Homo sapiens: one gene and its partners. The protein of the gene in region 5 interacts with the protein of the main gene of each other region in a pairwise test. Each region holds a gene or a part of one and is shown on either strand. Other genes may lie near its edges.

What was found.
Region 1: the proteins of BEND7 (region 5) and EAF2 interact in binary tests that used the Homo sapiens proteins (3 or more experiments, as listed by UniProt).
Region 2: the proteins of BEND7 (region 5) and CEP44 interact in binary tests that used the Homo sapiens proteins (3 or more experiments, as listed by UniProt).
Region 3: the proteins of BEND7 (region 5) and CDCA7L interact in binary tests that used the Homo sapiens proteins (3 or more experiments, as listed by UniProt).
Region 4: the proteins of BEND7 (region 5) and L3MBTL2 interact in binary tests that used the Homo sapiens proteins (3 or more experiments, as listed by UniProt).
Region 6: the proteins of BEND7 (region 5) and SMARCA2 interact in binary tests that used the Homo sapiens proteins (3 or more experiments, as listed by UniProt).
Region 7: the proteins of BEND7 (region 5) and ANP32B interact in binary tests that used the Homo sapiens proteins (3 or more experiments, as listed by UniProt).

What each region holds. Positions count from the first base shown.
Region 1 is NC_000003.12:121,880,209-121,883,617, reverse strand, and holds part of EAF2 (ELL-associated factor 2), read right to left. Parts: intron 1-3,409. UniProt on the Homo sapiens protein: Acts as a transcriptional transactivator of TCEA1 elongation activity. Acts as a transcriptional transactivator of ELL and ELL2 elongation activities. Potent inducer of apoptosis in prostatic and non-prostatic cell lines.
Region 2 is NC_000004.12:174,304,411-174,307,910, reverse strand, and holds part of CEP44 (centrosomal protein of 44 kDa), read right to left. Parts: intron 1-3,500. UniProt on the Homo sapiens protein: Centriole-enriched microtubule-binding protein involved in centriole biogenesis. In collaboration with CEP295 and POC1B, is required for the centriole-to-centrosome conversion by ensuring the formation of bona fide centriole wall.
Region 3 is NC_000007.14:21,907,900-21,911,399, forward strand, and holds part of CDCA7L (cell division cycle-associated 7-like protein), read right to left. Parts: intron 609-3,500; coding exon 231-608; intron 1-230. UniProt on the Homo sapiens protein: Plays a role in transcriptional regulation as a repressor that inhibits monoamine oxidase A (MAOA) activity and gene expression by binding to the promoter.
Region 4 is NC_000022.11:41,222,312-41,225,811, reverse strand, and holds part of L3MBTL2 (lethal(3)malignant brain tumor-like protein 2), read right to left. Parts: intron 1,793-3,500; coding exon 1,561-1,792; intron 1,088-1,560; coding exon 1,011-1,087; intron 846-1,010; coding exon 741-845; intron 19-740; coding exon 1-18. UniProt on the Homo sapiens protein: Putative Polycomb group (PcG) protein. PcG proteins maintain the transcriptionally repressive state of genes, probably via a modification of chromatin, rendering it heritably changed in its expressibility.
Region 5 is NC_000010.11:13,519,015-13,522,514, forward strand, and holds part of BEND7 (BEN domain-containing protein 7), read right to left. Parts: intron 1-3,500.
Region 6 is NC_000009.12:2,186,347-2,189,846, reverse strand, and holds part of SMARCA2 (SWI/SNF-related matrix-associated actin-dependent regulator of chromatin subfamily A member 2), read right to left. Parts: intron 1-3,500. UniProt on the Homo sapiens protein: ATPase involved in transcriptional activation and repression of select genes by chromatin remodeling (alteration of DNA-nucleosome topology).
Region 7 is NC_000009.12:98,003,841-98,007,340, reverse strand, and holds part of ANP32B (acidic leucine-rich nuclear phosphoprotein 32 family member B), read right to left. Parts: intron 2,378-3,500; coding exon 2,188-2,377; intron 1-2,187. UniProt on the Homo sapiens protein: Multifunctional protein that is involved in the regulation of many processes including cell proliferation, apoptosis, cell cycle progression or transcription.

The DNA of each region.
Region 1 (3,409 bases), on a different chromosome or scaffold from region 5:
GCAATGGATGAACCAGTCTTGCACAATAAAGAACTCTTCTACATTCTGTGAAATTTTTGAAAGTCGGGTGGAATATGTACTTGGAAGATCTGTTTATAAATTTAAAACCAGAGCTGAAATACATTTTCATAAATTCCAAGTATTGTTTTGCACATATTTAATTGAAACTTACAAGTATGCAGCTATCATGTAAACTGAAGATGATTTTGTTTTGTATTTTTTAAAAACTTTTCAAAAATTTTCTTTTAAAAATAGTTTGGGGCAACACATTAGTAACATCAATGCTGCTCATTGTATTTGGAGCAGCAATACGCATAACAATAGTTGTCTGTATAGGCAGCTGTAGACGCAATTTTTTAATATATATGCATATACTTTTCTAGTCCTTATTTCTACAGGTTAAATAAAAAGAAAAATTGTTGATAATATGAGTTGAATGTTGTTTTGTTTTTCTTAAATCCAAATCTATGCATTAAAAGTAACTGCAAAAACATGGTTACTTCATTGTATCTTCTGATATAGCTATTCTTTAACATTTACAAAGTTAGAACACATATTATTATAAATTTGTTTTTCTTTTGCCTTTATATTAAATTAAATTAATGCTTTTCAAAGATGTATGTACACAGATTATATTAAGCTATGAAATTCATTTCAAAATAGTAAAGGAGAATTAAAAATATCTGTTACAAAAGGGGGTGTTGGGTCTCATAAAGCTGAGCAATGGGATGATTGCAGTAATGGTCAGAGATGGTTTATTTCATTAGGAAACTCCTAGTTTAGATACATCAGGAAAAGAAATTTCACTATTTTTACTTAAAAAAAAAAAACCACCACCTCCCAAGTGGTTATTACTGATAGACAAAAACACTACGGACTTTACTTTCGCATATATCTTTTGCATCTAGTAATCTTTCCAAATTATTTTATTAGTTCTATCGTTTGCTGATTCTTTTGGATTTCCTATGTAGATAATTTACATTCCTACAAATTAAGAGTATTTTATTTCTTGTTTCCAATTCTTATATCATATTTCTTTTACTTGTTTTATTGTATTTGCTAGCAAATTCAATAGAGTGCTCAACAGAAATAACATTAGTCCTCTTTGTCTTGTTCCTGAATTTAACGGGAATGCTCCTAAAGTCTCTATTAGTATGATGTTTGTAGGAGTTCTGTTTTTTGGTAATTAACTTTTATAAAGCTAAGAAAATCCTATTATATTCATCCTTTGGTAAATGTTTTTATTTATTTTACTTTTTTTTTTTTTTTGAGACAGAGTCTCACTCTGTCCCTCAGGCTGGAGTGCAGTGACATGATCTCAGCTTACTGTAACCTCCACCTCCTGGGTTTGAGCAATTCTCATGCCTCAGCCTCCTGAGTAGCTGGGATTATGGGTGTGTACCAGCATGCCTGGCTAATTTTTGTATTTTTAGTAGAGACAGGGTTTCATCATGTTGCTCAGGCTGGTCTTGAACTCCTGGCCTCAAGTGACCCACCTGCCTCGTCCTCCCAAAGTGCTGGGATTACAAGTGTGAACTACCATGCCCAGCCTCAAGTACATGTTTTCAAATTAATAAATACTGAATTTTGTCAAGTTATTCATTTGTTGAAATGATCATATGGGTTTACTTCTATAATCTGTTAATGTGGTGAATTAGATTGATACCATTTCATATGTTTAACATTTCTTACATTTCTGTGATGACCCTTATTTGGTTGTGATTTGGTAAATTATACTTTTTCTACAAAACCATCCGTTCCTATGTCAAATTTACTGGAATAAATTTTTTAATAAAATTATAATTAAGGCTGGGTGCATTGGCTCACACCTGCAATCACGGCACTTTGGGAGACTGAGGTGGGTGGATTGCCTGAGCTCAGGAGTTCGAGACCAGCCTGGGCAACACAATGAAACCCCATCTCTACTAAAATACAAAAAAATTAGCCGGGTGTGGCAGCATGCGCCTGTAGTACCAGCTACTTGGGAGGCTGAGGCAGAAGAATTGCTTGAACCTGGGAGGCAGAGGTTGCAGTGAGTTGAGATTGTGCCACTGGACTCCAGCCTGGGCAACAGAGTAAGACTCTGTCTCCAAAAAATAATAATAATAATACTAATTTTTTAAAAATAACCAATTGGAAAACCTAATGATAATTGATAAATTTGTGGACATATACCACCTACCAAGATTGAACCAAGAAAAAATAGAAAACATGAACAGGTCAAGTACAAGTAATAAGACTGAATCAGTAATAAAAAGTCTCCCATCAAAAAAAAGTTCAGGACCTGATGGCTTCAATACTGAATTCTACCAAACATTTAAAGAATAAATACCAATTCTTCTCAAATTCTTCCGGAAAACTGAAGAGGTGAGAATTCTTCCAAACTCATTCTATGAGGCCAGCATTACCCTGTTACTGAAACCAGACAAGGACACAACTATAGGTCAATGTCTCTGATGCAAATACATGCAAAAATCCTCAACAAATAGTAGCAAACCAAATCCAACAGCACATTAAAAGGATCATTCACCATGATAAGTGGGATTTATCCCAGAGATGTAAGAATGGTTCAACATACCCAAATCAATAAATGTGAAATATCACACCAACATAATGAAGGACAAAAACCATATGATTATCTCAATAGATGCAGAAAAAGCATTCGATAAAATTCAACATCGCTTTATGATAAAAAACCCTCAACAAACTAGGTCTAGAAGGAGTGTACCTCGACATAATAAAGGCCATATAAGAGAAACCCACAGTTAACATTATACTAAATGGGGAAAAGCCGAAAGCTTTTCTTCTAGGAGCTGGAACAATATAAGGATGCGCACTCTCACCATTCTTATTAAACGCAGCACTGGAAGTCCTAGCCAGAGCAAAGAAACAAGAGAGAAAAATAAAGGGTATCCAAATTGCAAAGGAGGAAGTCAAACTGTCCCTGTTTGCAAATGACAAAATCTTATAAAGAGAAAACCCTAAAAGCTCCACAAAAAACTCAGGATTGATAAACAATTTCAGTAAAGTTGCAAGATACAAAAATCAACATACAAAAATTATTGGCATTTCTATAAACAAACAAGAAGAAATCAAGAAAGCAGCATTCCCATTTATAATAGCTACACACACACACACACACACACACACACACACACACACCCCAAAACACTAAGGTCCAGGACAGTGACTCATGCCTGTATTCTCAGTGCTTTAGGAGGCCAAGGAAGGAGGACTGCCTGGGGCCAGGAGTTCAAGACCAGCTTGCACAACACAGTGAGACCCAGTCTCTATTAAAAAAAAAAAAAATTAGCTGGCATGGTGGTGCACACCTATAGTCCCAGCAACTTGGGAGCCTGGGGAGGGAAGATCACTTGAGCCTAGGAGTTCAAGGCTGCAGTGAGCTGTA
Region 2 (3,500 bases), on a different chromosome or scaffold from region 5:
GTATCTCATTGTGGTTATGATTTGCATTTTTCTAATGATCAGTGATGTTGAGTTTTTTTCATGTGATTATTGGCTGCATGTATACCTTCTCTTCAGAAGTAGATGTTCATATCCTTTGTCCACTTTTTAATTAGGTTGTTTTTTTCTTGTAAATTTGTTTAAGTTCTTTATGGATGCTAGATATTAGGCCTTTGTCAGATACAAGTTTGCAAAAATTTTCTCCCACTCCGGAGGGTGTCTGTTTACTTTGCTGATAGTTTCTTTTGCTGTGTAGAAGCTCTTTAGTTCAATTAGATCCCATTTATCAACTTTTGCTTTTGTTGGAATTGCCTTTGGCGTCTTCGTCATGAAATCATTGCCGACACCTATGTCCTGAATGGTACTGCCTAGGTTGTCTTCCAGGGTTTTTATAGTTTTGGGTTTTACATTTAAGTCTCTAATCCATCTTGAGTTGATTTTTGTGTATGGTGTAAGGAAAGGGTCTAGTTTCAATCTTCTGCATATGGCTACCCAGTTATCAAAGCACCATTTACTGACTAGGGAATCCTTTCCCCATTGCTTGTTTTCATCAGGTTTGTTGAAGATCTGATAGTTGCAGGTGTGTGGTCTTATTTCTGGGTTCTCTATTCTCTTCCATTGGTCTATGTGTCTGTTCTGGTACTAGTACCATGATGTTTTGGTTACTGTAGCCCTGTAGTATAGTTTGAAGTTGGGTAGCATGATCCCTCCAGCTTTGTTCTTTCTCCTTAGGATTGCCTTGGCTATTTGGGTCTTTTTTGGTTTCATATAAATTTTAAAGTAGTTTTCTTTAGTTCTCTGAAGACTGTCAATGGTAGTTTAATGGGAGTAGCATTGAATCTATAAATTGCTTTGGGCAGTACAGTCATTTTAACAATATTGATTCTTCCTATCCATGAGCATGGAATGTTTTTCCATTTGTTTGTGTCATCTCTGATTTCTTTGAGCAATGGTTTATAGTTTTGCTTGTAGAGATCTTTTGCCTCCCTTGTTAGCTAGATTCCTAGGTATTTTATTCTTTTTGTGGCAATTTTGAATGGGAGTTTGTTTGTGATTTGGTTCTCAGCTTGACTGTTGTTGGTAGATAAGATTGCTAGCAATTTTTGCACATTGATTTTGTATCTCAAGACTTTGCTGAAGTTGCTTATCAGCTTAAGAAGCTTTTGGGCTGAGAAGATCCTCCTACAATTATTTTAAACATACAGCAATTTTGCAAAAGGAACACCAATCTTTAAAAATTAAAAAAAGTTTAAATTATCACATATAATATATATATCAAAATATTACCATTACTAACATTACCAATAATTTATGTGTGATGATAAAATTGGGGTTATGACTTTTAAAACAATTCTTACATTTTAGGACAAGCGCTGAAATATTTATTAAATTATGTCTGAGATTTGATTTAAAATAAAGACAAAACAAGATTAGCAAAGAGTTGATAAATTGCTGAAACTGGATGATGGGTATGTTTGTAAATGTTTGAAATGTTCCATAATAAAAAGTTATTTTTAAAAAAGATTGCCAAATAATTCACTTATAAATAATCAAAAACTGGCTCTATGAGTAGGGCTCATTACAATTTTTCTGTTAAACAAACTGCAATTTATTAGACCTTCAGCTAACAATTCAAACCTAATAATGACAACGAAGAAGTCCTGACAAAAAAAGCATTAGGTCACGGTATGCATTTACCTAGAAATCCTCTACCTGCTTCCTATTCTACAGTTTGCATACACACTATAAAAACATATGTGACTCAGAAGCGCAAATAGGCATACTATATAAGGCACTGGGATAGGAGACAATTTGCTTTAATATTGACTCAACTTTTGCTTGTAAACAAAGAAATGTACTTGTAGACTCTTTTCTAAATCTGAGAACTTTTAATACTTATTCAAATTTCTGATAAAGATCTGGTATAAATTTTAATAGATAACAAAGAAAACTTTGCTTTAAGAAAATTAAAAATAAGTCTAATGTTTTGAAGTTTACATTTTTCTTGGCTAGGACAATTTACACTGTCCCCTCAACTCTCATACTGAAATAGAACATTGAAAAGCACATTATATCAATAAATAATTAATAAGTGCTCACAGTGTTCCTAATCCTGTGCTAAGCAAAATGAAGGTACAAAAAATCAGTATAAGAAAATCCCTGTTCATATATGTTCCTTCTAGTTGGGGAAGAATACAAGATATAAGTCATTTAACAGTTAGAAAATCATAAATAAAACTAACAAGAGTTAGATGAGTTAGAGATGCAAGTGTACAAAAACTACATGCACTTATTCAAAAATGGCGGCTTTGTATCATTCTTTATATTGTCTTCATTACCTAGAGCAAAACAGGTACATTAAAAAGAAGTGGCATAAGAACATTTTCTTATAATAAAATTTCACTTTTTTAAGGTATAAAGGAATAAACATATTTTTTTGAGATGGAGTCTCGCTCTGTCAGCCAGCCTGGACTGCAGTAGTACAATCTCGGCTCACTGGAACCTCTGCCTCCAGGGTTCAAGCGATTCTCCTGCCTCAGTCTCTCAAGTAGCTGGGGTTACAGGCACCAGCTACCACGCCTAGCTAATTTTTGTATTTTTAGTAGAAATGGGGTTTCGCCATGCTGGTCAGGCTGGTCTCAAACTCCTGACTTTAGGTGATCCACCTGCCTTGGCCTCCCAAAGTGCTGGGATTACAGGCATGAGCTACTGTGCTAGACCCAAGAATAAATTTTTAAAATAGATTCTGTTTACATAACTCATGTATTTTGGATTAGGGCAGAAATAATACTCTAGATTATACTTCAGTCAGAAAGTATTCACATCCTTTACTTAATTACACCATTGATAATTCATCTGATATTCTATCATTCAATCAGAGTCTTCTCCAGCTGGAAGACAGCTGAAAATATATTAATAAATAATATTTTAGCTTAAGTCTCCCTTAGTGATAGAAACACTGTAGCTCTAAGTGCATTAGATTCAATTTGCCACAGCTGCTCAAAGCAGATAATGGCAGAAAAATTATCTTTCAAGAAAGAGAAAATATTCAAAATATTAACTGAAAACCAGATTCTACGTGTAGGGACTACCAATTATTGGATAATTCATACTTGGTTACAGAAATATAATGTACATAAATGAATCATTATAACCTATCACTACTGCTAATGTAGGCTCTTCATATGTTCCCATGTTTTAGGAAGACCAGAACACAATTAAGAGCAAATGTAGATAACTGCATAAGATAATCTTCCTAAATCACTACTCTTCTGTTTAGGAAATCCGGCAGAATTAGAAATTAGAAATATAAAGAGAACACGTATTTAATTTTATATTTCTATCCTATTGTTATAACTTCAGGCATACTGCCCAAAAATATATGGCATGCACTGTTAAAAATCAATGAACTCCAATATCTAACTAGAATGTTCATCAGGTGCCAATCAGAAAAGTGAAAACTGTATATTGGATTAATTAGA
Region 3 (3,500 bases), on a different chromosome or scaffold from region 5:
GGGCTAAAAATGGTGCTGGGGAATCTCTTTCTGTTCCCAAACCAGAGCTGATCATGTAATAGTTGCTCTGGGTTCTGGAAAAGTAAAAGGATACACAATACCCAGAGTATATTTTCTTGACAGAAGCCAAAGCAACAGCAGCAGCTGTAGGAGCAAAGTGGTTCTGGGAGCCCAGCAACTGCTGCCAGAGCCTGGTGCCAACTCCCAGGACGCCCTCCGTGAAGCCTCACCATGGCTTTGTTCTCCTTGATGTTCATGGTCCTTTTCAGCAAAGCATCTGAACTCTCCTGGCTCTCATCCCGAGAGTCATCCTCAGACTCAGAGGTAGAATCTTCCCTTTGTATCACCTGTCTACAGTCTTTCTTTCTTTCAAGAATTGTTTTTTTCTCATTCTGTAAGCGTGCGCTAGAAAACAACTGCTCGGAAGAACTGTTTTTATCTGGTTTGTTGGCCAGCTTCTTGGTGGGGAACTGAAAGGCTACTCGAAGACCAATACTACTTCTTCTAGACCTGCTTCTTCTAGGGGTAGCCTTATCTTCTTCTTCATCTTCCTCTTCCTCGCTCACCAAAGATGCTTTGCCATCATCACTCAAATCTGACTCCACGACCTAATAAAATAAGAGCAAGAAAAAGCACAAAGACACTGTTACAGACCCACAAAAAAGACATGCATTTAAAACAACTGACAGCATTATGAGAAAAAACATGAAAAATGAAAAGCTTCCCCTTCATATTATGAGTTCCCTCTGAATTTCCTTTAAATGTGCAAGAAATTGGTTGATGAATAAAATCAGAGAGCAGGCAACCTACTACTGAACTGTGCACCATCATACCCGCGACAGAAATGGGTTCCATTCAGAGCATGAGGGCTGTAAGCAAAACACTGACAGGGTGGGTTCCTCCACCGTGGGACAACCAGGGAGCACCAGCAAGAGGAGAGACAGTCACAGAAAAGGAGAGACAGCAGCATGACAGATGTGATCTTCAGACAGGAAAGGACGCAACGGGGGAAAAATGCTGACTGGTCTCCTCTAAATAGCAGGAACCAGACTCCTGAATAACAGGGCGGGAGAGCTGACTGCACCTCAGGGCAGTGACCCAGGACAGGCAGATGACCTGCCACTGCGTCCTCAGTCAAGGGGCACCTTTCCCTTCTCTGGAACCCTCAGAGCCATGAGGTGAAACCAGGTCACAAAGCTCTACAGGTTGTAGCAAAACACCACTCAGTCAACTCAAGAAATCCTCACCCGACATTTTCAAATTCCACATGGCAGAGGTCTCCAGCATTCAAACATTGCTCTGTTTTACAAGTGAGAACACAGTAAATATGGAAGGCAGTAACAGGGATACATCACCTAGGTGACAGCTTGGATGTGACGGGACTCTTAGCAGTGGTACAGAGACAGGTTTAAGTATGTAAGATCTAGGACGTCTTCTGGGCATCCTTCCATGACCAGAAGCTAGAAAACTTTGGGAACCATTATCTGGGAATTCTGAAAATCTACCAAGAACACGGAATGGCACCGATACGGACCCAGGATCAGTTCAGGGACTCTGCTTCCTCCCCGGTGACGACCATCAACCCCAAACTCTCGTTGGACTAAAGTTAGAAATAAGACACAGGGAGAAAAAAAACGCAGATAACTGCCAACCCTGGTATATCCACACCAAGCCAAGTGAGGAGTAAGACTATATGGCACTGATTTATCTATTTTTTAATACCCTGAACTTCCCATATTAATAGCTTCAGAATTCAAAATGGTGTACTGCAAAGGAACCCAATTTCAGGGGACACTGTCAGGGAAGAACTTCAGTTTTGATCCATTTATCTACCATCCTCATCATCGACAGGCCTCTCTTTACCAGATGTGGAACAGCTCACTACAGAGGCCTGAAGGAAGGAAAGAACAAATGGTACACAGCAGCCCAGAATCAGACCCAAGAGAAGAGCACAAGTGTAGTACATGGATGTGGTTATTTCGCATCCGGCCAGCAGACCCCTGGAAACCAAGTTACAGCAATGTCCCATTATCAAGAAAGATAGGTTCGCCAGTTCCCACAGGGGTGGGCAGGAGGGTGGGCTGGGAGGCAACAATGCTTTTCTTCTCACTGGATTCTAAAATAAAATTTGCAAGGGCCTGTGCTGAACTGTAAGCTATATCATGATCTATGTAACTACATCACACAGTCCATAGACTTGGGGGCAGGTGGGAGGGAAGACTTCTGGGGTAATTCACTTTCTCTCACTAGAAATGCAAATGCTTCGAATAACCAGACATCACTTCACTAAAGAACAGAAAATAAGTACATTGCTAACTGATGATGCCCATTAGGGTTTTAGAAGCATCTTAATATCGTGCTGGCAAGAAGCTAGGGACTTGCTGGCCAGAACTGATGGAACTGCCACACAAACAGCTTCTGCAAAGAAAGCCAAAGGAGACCTGGGGCCTCCAGGCTGGCACAGCTCTATGTTGCTACTCATAGCAAAAAATCACTATCAAACGAAGCAGCCTACCATGCGGGCTTTTATGCTCTACATTCTCTCCTAGGACAAGTGAGGGACATGGCAGGCTAGGAGTCACGGCTTATTTATACCTCTACACAGTCTCTGCCAAAAGTTAGTCTTTAGCAGCTTCTGGCTGTGAAGAGGCGTAAACTCTACGTTCCATCTTCATACTGAAGAAGATAGTAGCATGTTTATTTTTTGCATAAATGTATGCTATTTTTAGCAGAAAACATTTCTGCACTTAAATCCGAAGGCTGTGCCTTAAAGTTACCTTCAGGTTCAAACACGAGTGGGCAGTAAACTAGCCTAACTGTGCAGGATAAAACAAACAAATAACTAACAAGTCTGTTCATAGGAAGTGCTGAGAGTAGACTTCCCTCCAGAATCCAGGCAGGCCTGGGTCATCTTTAACACTAAAAAGCATGACAAATCCAAATCCACAATGCATGGGGAACACCAAGTTTGTACCACAGCCAAATTTTTGCCAAATTAACTTCAAACCAAAAACTGTCACTTCACACACAGTAAGAAAGTATCTCAAGAAAGTTGTCATCTAAGATAAACTTTTAGATAAAAGAGGTTTAAGGAACTCTTGAGATAATTTTTTTTTTTTTTTTTTTTTTTTTTTTTTTTTTTTTTTTTGAGATGGAGTCTCGCTCTGTCACCCAGGCTGGAGTGCAGTGGCTCAATCTCAGCTCACTGCAACCTCTGCCTCCCGGCTTCAAGAAATCCTCCTGCCTCCGCCTCCCGAGTAGCTTGGATTACAGGTGCCCGCCACCACGCCCGGCTAATTTTTGTATTTTGAGGAGAGATGGGGTTTCACCATATCGGTGAGGCTGGTCTTGAACTCCTGACCTCAGGTCCACCCGCCTCGGCCTCCCAAAGTGCTGGGATTACAGGTATGAGCCACCGTGCCTGGCCAAGAGAGATAAATTCTTTGAGAAGGACAATAAAGGACGCCTGGGACACATCCCCAAAAACCCCCTAAGGCACG
Region 4 (3,500 bases), on a different chromosome or scaffold from region 5:
GTATCCATCCAGGAGAACCTGGGGGGTGGGGGGAGCAGGCAGACAGATCATATCATGAACTGCACCCCATCCTGGGTTGGTACCGCACCCCAATAGGGACACGAGGCAAATGGATCCAAACGGATCTAGGGCATGGCCCTCCTGGAGGACACCTGAGCCTCTCTGGGGCACACAGTACTTCTGTGATGCATACGCGTGGGATTCTTTCTCTTCCCCACTAGACAGCAAACACCACGCCAGCAGGGGCCGCGTCCATCCTGTTGGACCGTGTTCTTGGGTGAGCACACGCGCCCGGCATGGAGCGGATCCGCGGCGAGGACGAGTCAGCAGCCTCCTCCAGGAGGGCCAAGGAGGGGTGGGGGTGCTGCTCAGGAGGAGGCGATGAGGTTTGGAGCAAGGTGACCCCAGCTGTGGCTCTTGCCTAGGCCAGCGCTCAAAGGAGATGGCACACAGCAAGAAGGCCCCAGTGAGGTGACAGGGAGGGGCCTACTCTGACACAGGACCAGGCTCAGGTGTTGAATAAGCACTCGTCCAGGGAGCCTTGGACCCTGACACGAAAGCAGATTCTGAGCAAGGGGCAGGCCAGGCCCCACTCACAAAAGTCAGGGACTCTGGGTGCAGCCAGTGATGAGAGGCTGGGACACAGACCCCCTGACGGTGGCGAGTGGGGTTAGAGCTCTGGGCCACATGGGTCCCCCCGCTCAGAAATCTGGAGGCTGGAGAGCCGGCCCCTGGCTCACCTTACAGACAGTTGCCACGCAGATGTTGCCCAGATTCAGGGGGTCAATGGCCTCCAGCTTCATCCCTTCCTCAAACCAACCGCCTTCTGTGTAGACTGCTCGTACCTTAAAGGAATGGGACAGCTGGGGACTCCCTGGGCAGGCCAGGAGGAAGGGTGAGGGAAGCAGGCCTCAGGAGGGAAAGGGATGGTCCCAGGGGAAGAGCCAGGTCCCTCAGGCCCGGAATGGACCCATGGCTGAGGGGAAAAGCGCCCAAGAGCTGAACCTCACCTTCTTGAAGAGGTAAGGAACGGCATCACAGTAGATCTTCCGGAAGGTGGGGTGATGGGCCATGTCACTTCGCCTCTCTTTGGAGGAGATGGATAGGGAATGAGGGAGAGAAGGGAGTTGGAGGCGGCTCCTGGGCCATCTCCACACGCCTCCCCTGGGAATGTGGGGCTGCTCTGCACGTGTTCTCAGCTGTATCTCTGTATCTCAGGACCCCCCACCCCAGAGTAGCAGACAGAAAGGTTGAGTCCAGAAAACATCAAGAGCTCTCTGTAGGGACTCTTCAGCCCTCGAAACCCAGACTGCTCCCGCATTGACAGGGGAGAGGATCGGGGCTGGTAGCATCTGGGTTCAAATCTTGATTTTACCACTCACAAGTTGAGTGGAGTGACTTTTGTCAAGTTACTCAAGCTCTCTGGAGCTCAGTATCATCACTGCAGGGGGGCCATGCCAACCTCCACCTGCTGACCTGCTGTGACGAGTAGGAAGGTGCTCCCACTCCGTCCCTGGGGAAGCACAGCATGCAGTCCCTCTGGCCTGGGGCTCTGCTAACCTGACATCTTGATGCCGTGGCCCACACGTCGTGACCAACCCACTGGGTGGATCAGGGGGCTCCACATGTGGCACCAGAAGTCGTCGTCACTGTCACCATCCTCGTAGAGGAGCCGTAGGCGACCCCCGATTACTGTGTCCACCACAGCCATGCGAGTGCGTGACACCTGGGACTTGTCCACCACTTCCAGCCGCATGCCCTGCCTAAAGGGGTACTTCATGCTCTCCACCATCTGAAACGACGTCAGAACACAGGCCTGCTATGGCTCAGGGCTCTTCCCACCCACCCTCCTGCTCTGGTGAGTGGAGGACAGGGAAGGTGTGGTGTTATCCCCCACACTCAGTCAGTCGGGAGGTGGCAGATGAGACTGCCTGCGCTGCCAGGCTCACCTTGGCCCTGACTCCCTAGGAGGACACAGAGGGAGGCAACAGCTCTCCCTAGGAGGACACAGAGGGAAGGCACACGGCTTGCAGTGGGCATGCCACTTCTTGCCACCAAAACGCCAATGAGTTGATGCAAATCACAAAACGCACTTTAGACTAAGGAAAAGTGACCCAGAGGTCACGCCTGCCCAGAATTACACAGACTCATTTGTGCCAGAGCTGGGCCTGGAAGCTGGTGTGCAGCCTGTGCTCCTCATGGGCTCTGCACTCTGATCCCCAGGCATCCTGCCCTCCCCGCCCCCTCCCAGCCCTCTGCCTGTGGCACATACAAGACTCATGTCCAGAGAACTGAGTCTTCCTGTGTCCCTTTCTGACCCTGATGGGCTGCAGCTCTGCAGTGCTTTCACAGTGCCTTGGTAGCAACTGACCTAATGAGGGATGGTGACCAAGATGCCCTCGAGCTGCTCTACAGAGAGCCATGGTGCTGGGGTACAGAGGAGGAGGTTCTTTTTGTTCACTGTGACTTCAGTGCTGTCCTGCCTGGGGCAGGGAACAGGTAGGGTGTAGGGCTTTTCCAGCCCCAGGGCACTGCTGGGTCAGGAAGAACCAGCCTAGACTAGACTAAGCAGTGCTATTTCCAAACACACCAGGAAGGAAAGCGTCTCAGAGGTCACAAAGCAGCCAACAGGCAAAGCTGACACAGGGGTCCTAAACCAGACAGACCCTCTGGCCCAGCTCAAGGGCTTGGGATACGTCCTGACACCAATTGCCTGTCCCACATCCGGTATCCCAGCAGCTCACTCAGGAGAGTGAGAGAAAACACAGGGTAAGGCCTGGCTCGGGGCCCCTCTGGGCTGCCTTCCCTGCCATGTTCTCTTCATCTACAGCCAACACAGTGCAGCCCACAATCCAACGCCATTTTTGTTAGTTTTTGTTTTTTTTTTTGAAATGGAGTCTCCTCGCTCTGTGGCCCAGACTGAAGTGCAGTGGCACGATCTCAGCTCACTGCAACTTCGGCCTCCCGGTTTCAAGCGATTCTCTCACCTCAGCCTCCTGAGTTAGCTGGGATTACAGGCGCATGCCACCACACCCAGCTAATTTTTGTATTTCTAGTAAAGACAGGGTTTCATCATGTTGGCCAGGCTAGTCTGGAACTCCTGCCCTCAGGTGATCTTCTGACCTCGGCCTCCCAAAGTGCTGGGATTACAGGAGTAAGCCACTGTGCCGTGCCTAGCTAATGTTTTTTTTTTTTTTCAAGAGACGAAGTCTCACAGTGTTGCCCAAGCTGGTTTCAGACTCCTGGCCTCAAGTGATCCTCTTGCCTTGGCCTCCCAAAGTGCTGAGACACTGAGACAGGTATGAGTCACTTTTACCATGTATATATGTGACTTTTTAATTTTTACTAAATCATTTCTTAAAATTAAATGCCACAAAGATGATTCTGTGCCACACAGGAGTCCTACACCAGACAGAATCAGACAGCCCAGAGGCGCCCCAGACTGGGCTTTACCCTGTGCTGTGCCAGGCACATCCCTGGCTCAGAACCGAGGCTATATT
Region 5 (3,500 bases):
ACAACCACATTTCAATGTGGCAGCTGTTAAGTTTCGGAGGAGGATCTGCAGGGTGACTTGAGCACAATAAAGCCACACACAAAAATAAGTAAATATTAGGCATCACATGGTAAGTGCCAGAAAAGAGTAATGTTATTACTTAGTGCCCAAGTGATCGGAAGAATAGATAACTCCTAGGCTGGGCACGGTGGCTCACGCCTGTAATCCCAGCACTTTGGGAGGCTGAGGCAGGTGGATCACGAGGTCAGGAGATCGAGACCATCCTGGCTAACATGGTGAAACCCCGTCTCTACTAAAAAAAATACAAAAAAATTAGCCGGGTGTGGTGGCGGGCACCTGTAGTCCCAGCTACTCGGGAGGCTGAGGCAGGAGAATGGCGTGAACCCGGGAGGTGGAGCTTGCAGTGAGCCGAGATGGCGCCACTGCACTCCAGCCTGGGCAACAGAGCGAGACTCCGTCTCAAAAAAAAGAAAGAAAAAAAAAAAGAAAAGATAACTCCTAAATCTGGGAGAAGGAGAGAGAATGGGGTAATAAAAACAGAAATACAGTGTTTTCCAGTTTGAAAAAGCGTTTTACCATACAGGATTTCGCATGTGCGTCAGGAGGGCCAACGTTATTCTTCTATTACAGAAGATGAGGAAAACCCCTCAAGAGTGTTATCCAAGGTGTTAGAACTGGAGCCTGAGATTCAAAGCAAGGTTTTCTGACTCTAAATCCAACTTCTCTCTGCTACGCTATGTAAACTGAGGCGGCTTACAGGCCAAGGTAATATTTGAATTGAGCTTTAAAAACCGATAGGAGAGACAGGATTTTACTAGAAGGAGTTTGGAAATGGGGTAAGGAATGGTAGGAGGCTAGGATGGAGAAGGAGCCGCAGTGAAATGGCAGAGATGAGAATGGGAAGGTGCTTTAGGAGGGAATGATGTGATCAGTTTGACACAGCACATGTTTTCAGTGAGGGTGAAGAGCAAGAGAAGGCTGGAAGGGCGGTTTAGAAACAGACAGCGAACTGAAAGAGAGAGGAGAGCGGGGCCTCACTCCTCCAAGGCAGCATGGTACAGTGGAAAGATCGTGGCCAGGCCATGTCCAAATTCCAGATCCAGGCTCTTGTCTCCTAGTTCTATGACCTTACGTACATTAACAATTCTAAAGGCCCATTTTTCTCATATAAAAGTAGAAATGACAATACCTTCTCAGAGCTGGTCTCAGTGTTAAATGAGATAAAGTTCGGAAGTGCCCAGCACACACCGGAGGCAGTAAACAAGCCCTAGCTCCTTTCTTCCCAGCAGGAGGGGCTTTCCCAGGCCATAGCTCCTGCCCACCCCATTCCTTCTCCCTGTGGTGCCTCCTCTGCACCTGGAAGTCCTGGTTTAGGAAGCCGGTTGGCTCAAGGGAAGGCGGTTACATGAAAGCTGTGGACAGGGAGATGGGTCGGGTCAGACCGTGCATACTAGACACTCAGTGAAGGGCTTTGCCTTGATTCTAGGCCCATGACAAGGGAGCTGAAGTCTCTAAGCAGGAGAGAGGGTGAGAAGTTACGTACTGAGATCAGCCCACGTGGGCAGATTGGAGCAAGGAGCTGTGGCAGCTCTGACAAGGTGAAGAACTCAGAAGTGGATGTCAGGAGACCCCACTGGAAAGTGTGGTCAGCTACTAATGACCATGTAGCCTTGGGCAAATCACTTTCATCCCTGAGTTGAGGTTCCCATTTGTAAAACATGAGGCCGACCCAACAGCAACCTCACAGTGTAGCTGCAATAGAAACTAAATGAGAGATGGAGTGCCCGGATGGCCTAACTACAAATGCCTCCCAGACTTTAGGCAACAAGTCATACGTGAGAACGACCAAGTTCTGCATCCACAGCTACCGAAACATATGTTTATGTGCACATAAATTGAAAGAAGCCATCGGTATTTAAGTTCCCTCAAGAGGCTCTCCAAACTTTGACTTTGCTTGCAATTATTTTTGAAGCCATTTTTCGGTCCTAGAGTATAATCGGACAAATCAGGTGCTGTATGAAGCCTTGGGAACTGTCTAGACCAGGAGTTTTAAAACAGTGACTGGGGGCGCCCTAACATTCTGCAGAGGCCCACAGAGGAATGTGAAATGCACGTAAGGCTCTCTGGGTCTCCTCGACCTTTTTTCAAGCAGCTCTGCTCCCCTTTGATCTGCTGGACATACTGGGGGTTCCGCTTGGGAGCACGTTTGAACAAAGCCTGCCATGCGGTTAAGGGCTTGCTTTGGAGACAGGCAGACCCTGGCTTGCATCCTGGCTCTGGCACTGAGTAACTCTGTGAACTCCTCAAATTCTTCATCCATAAAGAGGGAAAAACAACACGTTTCTTGGGACAATTAATGGGATAACATTTACAAAGTCCTTTACATAGTGCTGGCACACAGCAAGCTCTGGGTAAATAACACTATTACTGGCCACGTACCTAACCCCAAGAGACACTCCTGGTCATCTGTCCCATTCATTCCACCACCAAAAAAGGAGAGGACTTACAAGAAGGAGCACAGGGACACAAGGACACAGTGGGGCCAGGGTGCTGAAGGTGGAGCTTTTGTGGGGAGGAACAGAGGGGAAGCACTTGCTTCCACATACTGGGATTTTGGGGTTCCACTTTTCCCCCTTGGCCCTTCATTTCCTCTGAGGTTGCAACTCCTGCCCCAGGTATGGTGACACACTAGACCCTTCTTCCTCTTGGAAGTGGGGCTCAGCTCCCAAGCCTTTTGAAACCAACCAAGAACCAGGGTGGGACCCAGGCCACCTGACTCCAGGTGAAGACCTCCTCCATTTTACAGACGGACCTGCCGAGTCCTCCAGGGAGGAGAACGATGTCGTGGCTGGGAGATAACTCTCTAACTTGTAAAAGTGCAGAGGAATTGTTCGAGTGTGTCCTCTTTGGGGAGATTCTGGGGACTCTAGTGGGTGCAGCTGTCATCAAGAAAGCCACTGAAAAGAGACTTCAGAGTTTCAGAGATGTCGACCCTGCTCAGCTGGCATGGCTGCCACACTGTGTGCTTCATCTATGGGAAGCTGAATAACTGAACTGAATATTAAAAAGAATAACTAGAACAGGGCTTGGCATGGATGTAAATGGAGCGCAATGAATTTGTTGAATGAATAAATGAATGAGACTGAACACCTGACAGATAAACATGTTTCCAATGTACATACTATGATAAATCTAACCCAAAATCCAATGTGTGAAAAGAGACTTCATTTTATATTTGCATTACTGCTATGAATAATAAATTAATTGTCTCATTAAAATCCTTCTAAAAGTGCCCTGCTAGCAGCTAAGGCCTCCTCCATGAGCCTTGGCTTTGCCTGGCTCCACAGGGCAGAGGGGAAAGATCTTTTGAGAGGAGGCCTGGGTTTACTCCGGCCTCTGCTATTCGTGAGGTCAGGTAACTGAGCTTCGGTTCCCATCATTATAGGAATCATTATATCTGCCCTGACTACCCCACAGGTATATGGTAAAAATCCCGAGAA
Region 6 (3,500 bases), on a different chromosome or scaffold from region 5:
CCACAGAAACATAAGCTAACAGAAGAGATGAGAGCTGTGCTGTTATGAACTCAAGTGTGGTGGTAGCATTTGCCTTTCCTCCATTCCAAATCCTAATACACAAAATAGTACTCCTAGCCAAGGCTTCTATCTATTATACCCACTGTCTGCTGCTTGACAAGCTATAAGGTGGGGCCCTTTGCTTTGGGTGGAGTAACTTAGGAGAAGAAGAAGAGACTGGAGATGAAAAGGCCTACCTACTAATGAAAACGGAAAGATGTAGGACGTCGAAAGAAATAGATGAAAGAAGCCAGTCATAATGGGCATTTCTAAACAGTGTGGAAAGACAAAGTGAAATATGTCCATTTATACAGGTGTGGGCTCTCCCTGACACAGGAGTATAGGAAATGAATGGGCAGAAGACAGGCAATAGGGGTAAGAAAATGTATCCTTGAGAGCGTAATCTAAATGTGCCTTGGAGTGTGGCGCACTCTAATGCTGTCAGGCACGCGTCAGTGGATATGTCTCTCCAAAAAACCCACCTGACAGACTATGGACAAGCAGGCTAATAAACTGGACCATTAGGTGAGCCCTATAAACAGCTTCCTAAGGTTTTATGATACAACCATATGCACCTATGAAAAGTTCTAGCTACCAAGTGTGGTGGACAGAATATCATCTCCTCACAAGATGTCCATATCCTAATCCAAGAACCTCTGAATATGTTATATTACATGGCAAAAGGAATTTTAGACTGTTAATTGTCTGACCCTGAGATGGGGAAATTATAGTGGATTATCCAGGTGGGCCCAGTCTAATCATCTGCATCCTTAAACGTGGAAGAGGAAGACGCAAAAGAGAGATTCATGGAGACACAACATGAGAAGGACTGTACCTGTCATTGCTGGCTTTAAAGTTGGAACAAGGGGTAGGGGTGGGGAGGCAATGAGCCAAAGAACACTGTTGGGAACAGCCTTCCACTGGCAGCCAGCAAGAAAGTGGGAACTTTGTTTCTACGAACACAAGAAATTGAACTCTGCTGAGAACCAGGATGAACAAGGAAATGGGATTCCTATCTAGAGCATCCAGAAAGGAATGCAGGCTGCTGACACATTGATCTTAGTCCAGGGAGACTCATGCTGAACCTGTGACCCACAAGAGGTAATAAGTTTGTGTTGTATTAAAGTCACTAAGTTTGTGGTAATTTGTTATAGCAGCAATAGAAAATTAATATACCAAGGCTTGAGAAATTAAACTAAATTGATGGATGGGGGAAGAGAGCAGCTCTTTGAAAACAGATTAGAAATCTGGCTCTAAAATAATGAAATATATAGCTAAAATAGATGATGCAGATGTATTCAAATGCTAGAACAAAGGAATAACTACATGAATTTGGGACAGTTTAAATTCATAACAAATAAAAGGCAGAATCACTAACTAGAATATAGATAATAGAAAATGACGTTGGGAAAGAGTCGCTTATGTATGTTGAGGGCAAGAATGGAAACTCCATTCTCTGTGGCAATGTGTATACATCACATACATTTTACATCTTTTCAATAATCTATGGGTAAAATGCTCAGGACAGCATTATTGGGAAACAGCCTGATTAACAGAGTATAATTAACACGTTACAGTACATTCACATTCATTAATGAATGTTAATATGTATTATACATATTAATATATGTTGCTGTAGAAAAACCCTCATTGCCATGGAAAGTGTTCATAATAAGTACAAAAATCATTACATTTTCCAAATCATCTGTATTAACATGTAATTAGAAACCTAATAATTTTTTAAAAGCATGTCTATACTTTTAATATATTTGAAAAGGTAAAAAAACGTGTAATTCTATATCTCTACATACATGTAATATTTTGAGACGTTACCTTTTTTTCCACACATAAATTTGTTTATAAAAACATAGCACACAGTTTTGTGGCATGATTTTTGTACTTATTATGAATATATTGATCAGGCTTGTCTCAAACTGGTGACTTCAAGTGATCCAGCCACCTCAGCTTCCCAAAGTGCTAGGATTACAGGCATGAGCCACTGGGCTCGGCTTATACTGTAAAACATAGGTTTTAGTACTTTACTTTGAGAGGTATACAGTGAAGACACACATAGGAAAGAAGAAATTTTATGTTTTAAAATATTTATTAATTATATTTAAAATTTTTTTTTTAGATAGAGTTTTGTTCTGTTGCCCAGGCTGGAGGGCAGCGGTATGATCATAGCTCACTGCAGCCTTGAACACCTAGACTAAGCAATCCTCCTGCCTCAGCTTCCTGAGTAGCTGGGACTATAGACACGTGCCACCACACTTGGCTATTTCTTTTTACAAACATTTTTGTAGAGATAGGGTCTTGCTATGTTATCCAGGCTGGTCTTGAACTCCTAGCCTCAAGCTATCCTTCTGCCTCAGCCTCCCAGAGTGCTCGGATTATATTTGTGAGCCAACATGCCTCACTAAGAAGAAATTTTCAACTTCTGACAGCACCCTTAACCTTTGGAATATTTGGGTTATCAGTCACGGCTGGAACTAGGGTCAAACAATGGAGGCACGCACCTTGGGTGTAAAATTTAAGGGGGCACCAAAACCCAGTCATCAACTAATATCCTAAAAGGTAAATATTTTAAAAACCCAAATTAATGCCCCCCAAATCCATGATAAACAAACTATCAACATTTTAAATAAAGACAGTACCCTGTCATCACCCCTCTTCCCCTGGCAAAAAAAAAATTCTATGCAAAATTCACAGTTCCAACTCAGTTTGACAATTATTTTCTAAAGCTGTGATTCTCAAGGTGTGGTCCTTGGCCCAACATCATCAGTTCCCCCTGGGAATTTGCCAGAAATACGGATTCTCAGGCCCCACAACAGGCTACTGGATCAAACACTGGCATATTCTTCAAGCCCTCCAGGTTTGAGAACCACCGTGGTAAAGAAGAGAAGATAGGTGGCATTAGCAGCAGTGTTGTAGAAAATGTGTAGTAGGCTAATATTCAAAGGCAACATTCAGAAAGTGTTTGCAGGTCAGGTGTGGCGGCTTGTGCCTATAATCCCAGCACTTTGGGAGGCCGAGGCGGGTGGATCACGTGAGGCCAGGAGTTTGAGACCAGCCTTGCCAACATGGTGACACTCCATCTCTACTAAAAATATAAAAATTAGCCGGGCGTGGTGGCACACGCCTGTAATTCCAGCTACTCGGGAGGCTGAGGCAGGTGAATCACTTGAACCTGGGAGGTGGAGGTTGCAGTGAGCTACTGGGAGGTGGAGGTTGCAGTGAGCTAAGATCATGCCACTGCACTCCGGCCTGGGTGACAGAGTGAGACCCTGTCTCAAAAATAAATAAATAAAAGAAATAAAACAGTGTTTGCTAGGAGCCCAGCCTATGCTAAACATTTTACATGCTTGGAGGTCATTTTTATGACCTCAGTTTTATAGATGAGAAAACTGAGCATGAGCAGGGATAAGGACATGGCCACCGGTTGCCCAGCAAGGACAAAGTGG
Region 7 (3,500 bases), on a different chromosome or scaffold from region 5:
TCAAAGAGGAACATGTGCCACCTTTTGAACTGCAGCTTAACTGCAGCCTCTCCTAAAAGTTCATGACAAATGTCCTTAGCAGCAGGCAGGATCAACTCTTCAATAGTAAAGGGCTTCTTACTTTAGCAATGCAGTTAGTTAAGGGCTTCTTAGCTTTAGCAATGCAGTTAGCCACTAAGAATGAGATGTTCTCAGTGCAGTCACATTTGATGAAGTGGGAGCTTTCAATAATTGCCTCTGTTTTTCACGTTCATGTTTATTTCTTTTGAAAAACTCCAAAGGCTTGTCTTTTAAACGCAGGGTGCTTGGTCTCCAAGTGGTGAAGCAGTTTTTTTTTTGTTTGTTTGTTTTTTGAGATGGAGTCTTGCTCTATCGCCCAGGCTAAAGCACAGCGGCACAATCTCGGCTCACTGCAACCTCCGCCTCCCAGGTTCAAGCAATTCTCATGCCTCAGCCTCCCGAGAAGCTGGGACTAAAGGTGTGCACCACCATGCCTGGTTAATTTTTGTATTTTTGCAGAGCCAGGGTTTCCCCATGTTGGCCAGGCTGGTCTTGAACTCCTGACCTCAGGTGATCTACCTCGGCCTCTGTAAGTGCTGGGATTACAGGCATGAGCCACTGTGCCCAGCCAGTGAAGTGGTTTTGAAGGTTTCATGGCTTTGTTGGATAGCTTGTTGCCACATATTATACAAAGTGGGCTTGGAGAATGTGAATCATCTGTTGCAATGAACCTGTAATTTAAGTAGCACTCTTGGTATTTTCTTTTCAATGAAGCTTTCTTTTCATTGGCAGTCTTGTCTTCTGCTGTCTCATTATTGGGTCTTTCCCCCTTCTCAAAGAAGCTCTCCAGCGACGTTTTTTACTCATGTTGGATAGTTAGCTTGTGGGCCTAACAAAACTGTGACTGAGACAAATACGCAGTGCGGGAAAGAGGTGTGGATGGAAGTGGTAAATAAAAAAATGGGCAGGCCATGCACTGACTAAAAAAAGCATCAGATTCTGACTTAAAGCCTGTCACCAGATACAGCTGTACAACTGAAGTACACCAACTCACTTGCCACTATAAAGCCTGCCACCAGATGCAGCTTGTCACTTGCCACTCACAGATAGGGGTTGATGAGTCTGCAAGCAATTGATTTATTATCATCTCTGTAAAGTCAAACCTCTTTGCTAATGTTAATCTGTATTTGCAGCCACTCCCCAGTGCTAGCATCACCACCTCAGCTCTAGCATCACCACCTCAGCTCCACCTCGGATCATCAGGCATTAGATTCTTCTAAGGAGCACACAACCTAGCCCCCTCACATGTGCAGTTCACAATAGGATTCTCGTTCCTATGAGAATCTAATACCACCATTGATCTGACAGGAGGTGGAGCCCAGACAGTAATGTGAGCAATGGGGAGTGGCTGTAAATACAGATGAGGCTTCCTCACTGCTCATGCGGCCTGGTTTCTAACAGGTCATGGAGTAGTACCAGTCTGTGGCCTGTGGGTTGAAGACCCCTGAAGTAGGAAGACTTAAGAACAGCAGAGTGGCAAGCCTGTAAGAGCAAGCGGTTTACAGTTTAAACGCACAGCATCCTAACTTAGCTTGTAGACTTCAGGAAATGCTTCCCGGGCCAGGTTCAGTGTCTCATCCCTGTAATCCCACCACTTGGGGAGGCTGAGGTGGGAGGATCCCTTGAGGCCAGGTGCTTATGAAATAGGCCTTAGCTATAAATTTAATGGAATGCCTACATTCAAAAAATACACGCGTGCGCACGCACACAAACACACACTATTTTCCTCAATAGTAAGAACATCTAGTAGCTTTTTTTTTTGAGACACCCTGTCTGTCTTCTGAGACGGAGTGCAGTGGGGAACAATCATGGCTCACTGTAGCCTCAAACTCCTAGGTTCAAGTGATCCTCCCACCTCGGCCTCCAGTCTTCTGAGTAGCTAAGACTCCAGGTGTGCGCCACCACACCTGGCTAATTTTTTTTTTTTCTATTTTCTGTAGAAACAAGGTATTGCCATGTTGCCCAGGCTAGTCTCAAACTCCTGGGCTCAAGCAATGCCCCCTGCCTCGGCCACCCAAAGTGCTGGGATTACGGTTGTGTGCCACTGCGCCCGGCCAACATCCAATAGCTTTTATCAGAGGCTTTGAAAGGCAGACATCAGGTTCACCAGATGCTGAGCCTACTCACCTTCGTCCTCCTCCTCTTCATCCACACCATCCACCTCGGCATCTGAGTCAGGTGCTTCCTGGTCCTCTCGGTCATAGCCATCCAAGTAGGTAAGCTGGGGCAGGAGCTTGAAGACACTCTCTCGGTAGTCATTCAGGTTGGTAACCTCACAGTTAAAGAGGTCCAGGCTTTTCAGACATTCTAACTTTTTCTGAAGAAAAGGATCAAAAACCACAACTCCTAAACCAAAGGAATATAAGTAACAAATCCATCTCTTGAAGAGGTAAAATTCTAGGCTCTATATTCAATTTCCACTACCCACTCAGCCTCATATATAGAAAAATACATCAAGTCTTTTGCAACCTTTATATTAGGTTACTAGACTTTAGTCCCTCTCTTCCTTTATCTACTCTCCCAGAGAACTATGTGTTTTTCTGGCAGCATAGTAGTCTAAAGAAATATAAATTGAAAATAATTTTTATTAAATCCAGGTATTTTCACAGTATGAGACAATCAAACAGTTTAATAAATTTAGCTGAAACAAATGTTAACATTTGAGTAATCAAATGGCCATTAAGAACTTCCTGGGTATCAAGCGGTCTTTAATGTTCTAGGGTGGCAGTATAGGGAAAAATTCAGAGATTTATAACACAATCTTAGGGTGCTTACAATTTTAGTTAGGGCACAGACATGAAACACTAGAGGATGAAATATAATAAAATATAAAGTGTGGCAATGCAGCTACTTTCAGGGAAGACAGGAGTCAATATGGGCTGAGGAAAAAGCAGAGGGGCGCAGAGTTGAAACTTCGGAAATACGGAGAAACATTGCACTCTTCTTTTTTAGTATTTGGGGAAAAGACTGACATGTTACCAGACTTTTATGATGTAAAGTTCTTCTGATTTTATTTACCATACCTTGAAATTTTGTTGCAATACCTCATTTCTTTGGAACCATCAGTTTCATCTATCTAAAAACAGTTAAGCTATAAAAAGTTGGCCCAAGTCAAGTTTTCTGAGTAGTCAAAGTGCACTGGAAAATGTCTATGTATTTACTCAGATCTTCATTTGTTATTATATCAGTGTACTAGTATTTCAATCCCAGGTCTATTAAGTTTTGATTAAGGGTAAATTAAGAGATTGAGAGGGCAGAGGTACTACACTATAGGCAAGTCAGGAGACAGCAACAGGAAGTGACAGCAGACCCTTGTAGATAGAAGAGGGAGCAGCCTATGAAAGGCAAATCCAATGTGAAGTAGCACATAGCCTGGTGCCTTTCAGAATAGGGGCAATAACTACATATATCTGGATAGCTTCATAAACACAACCTTTAAT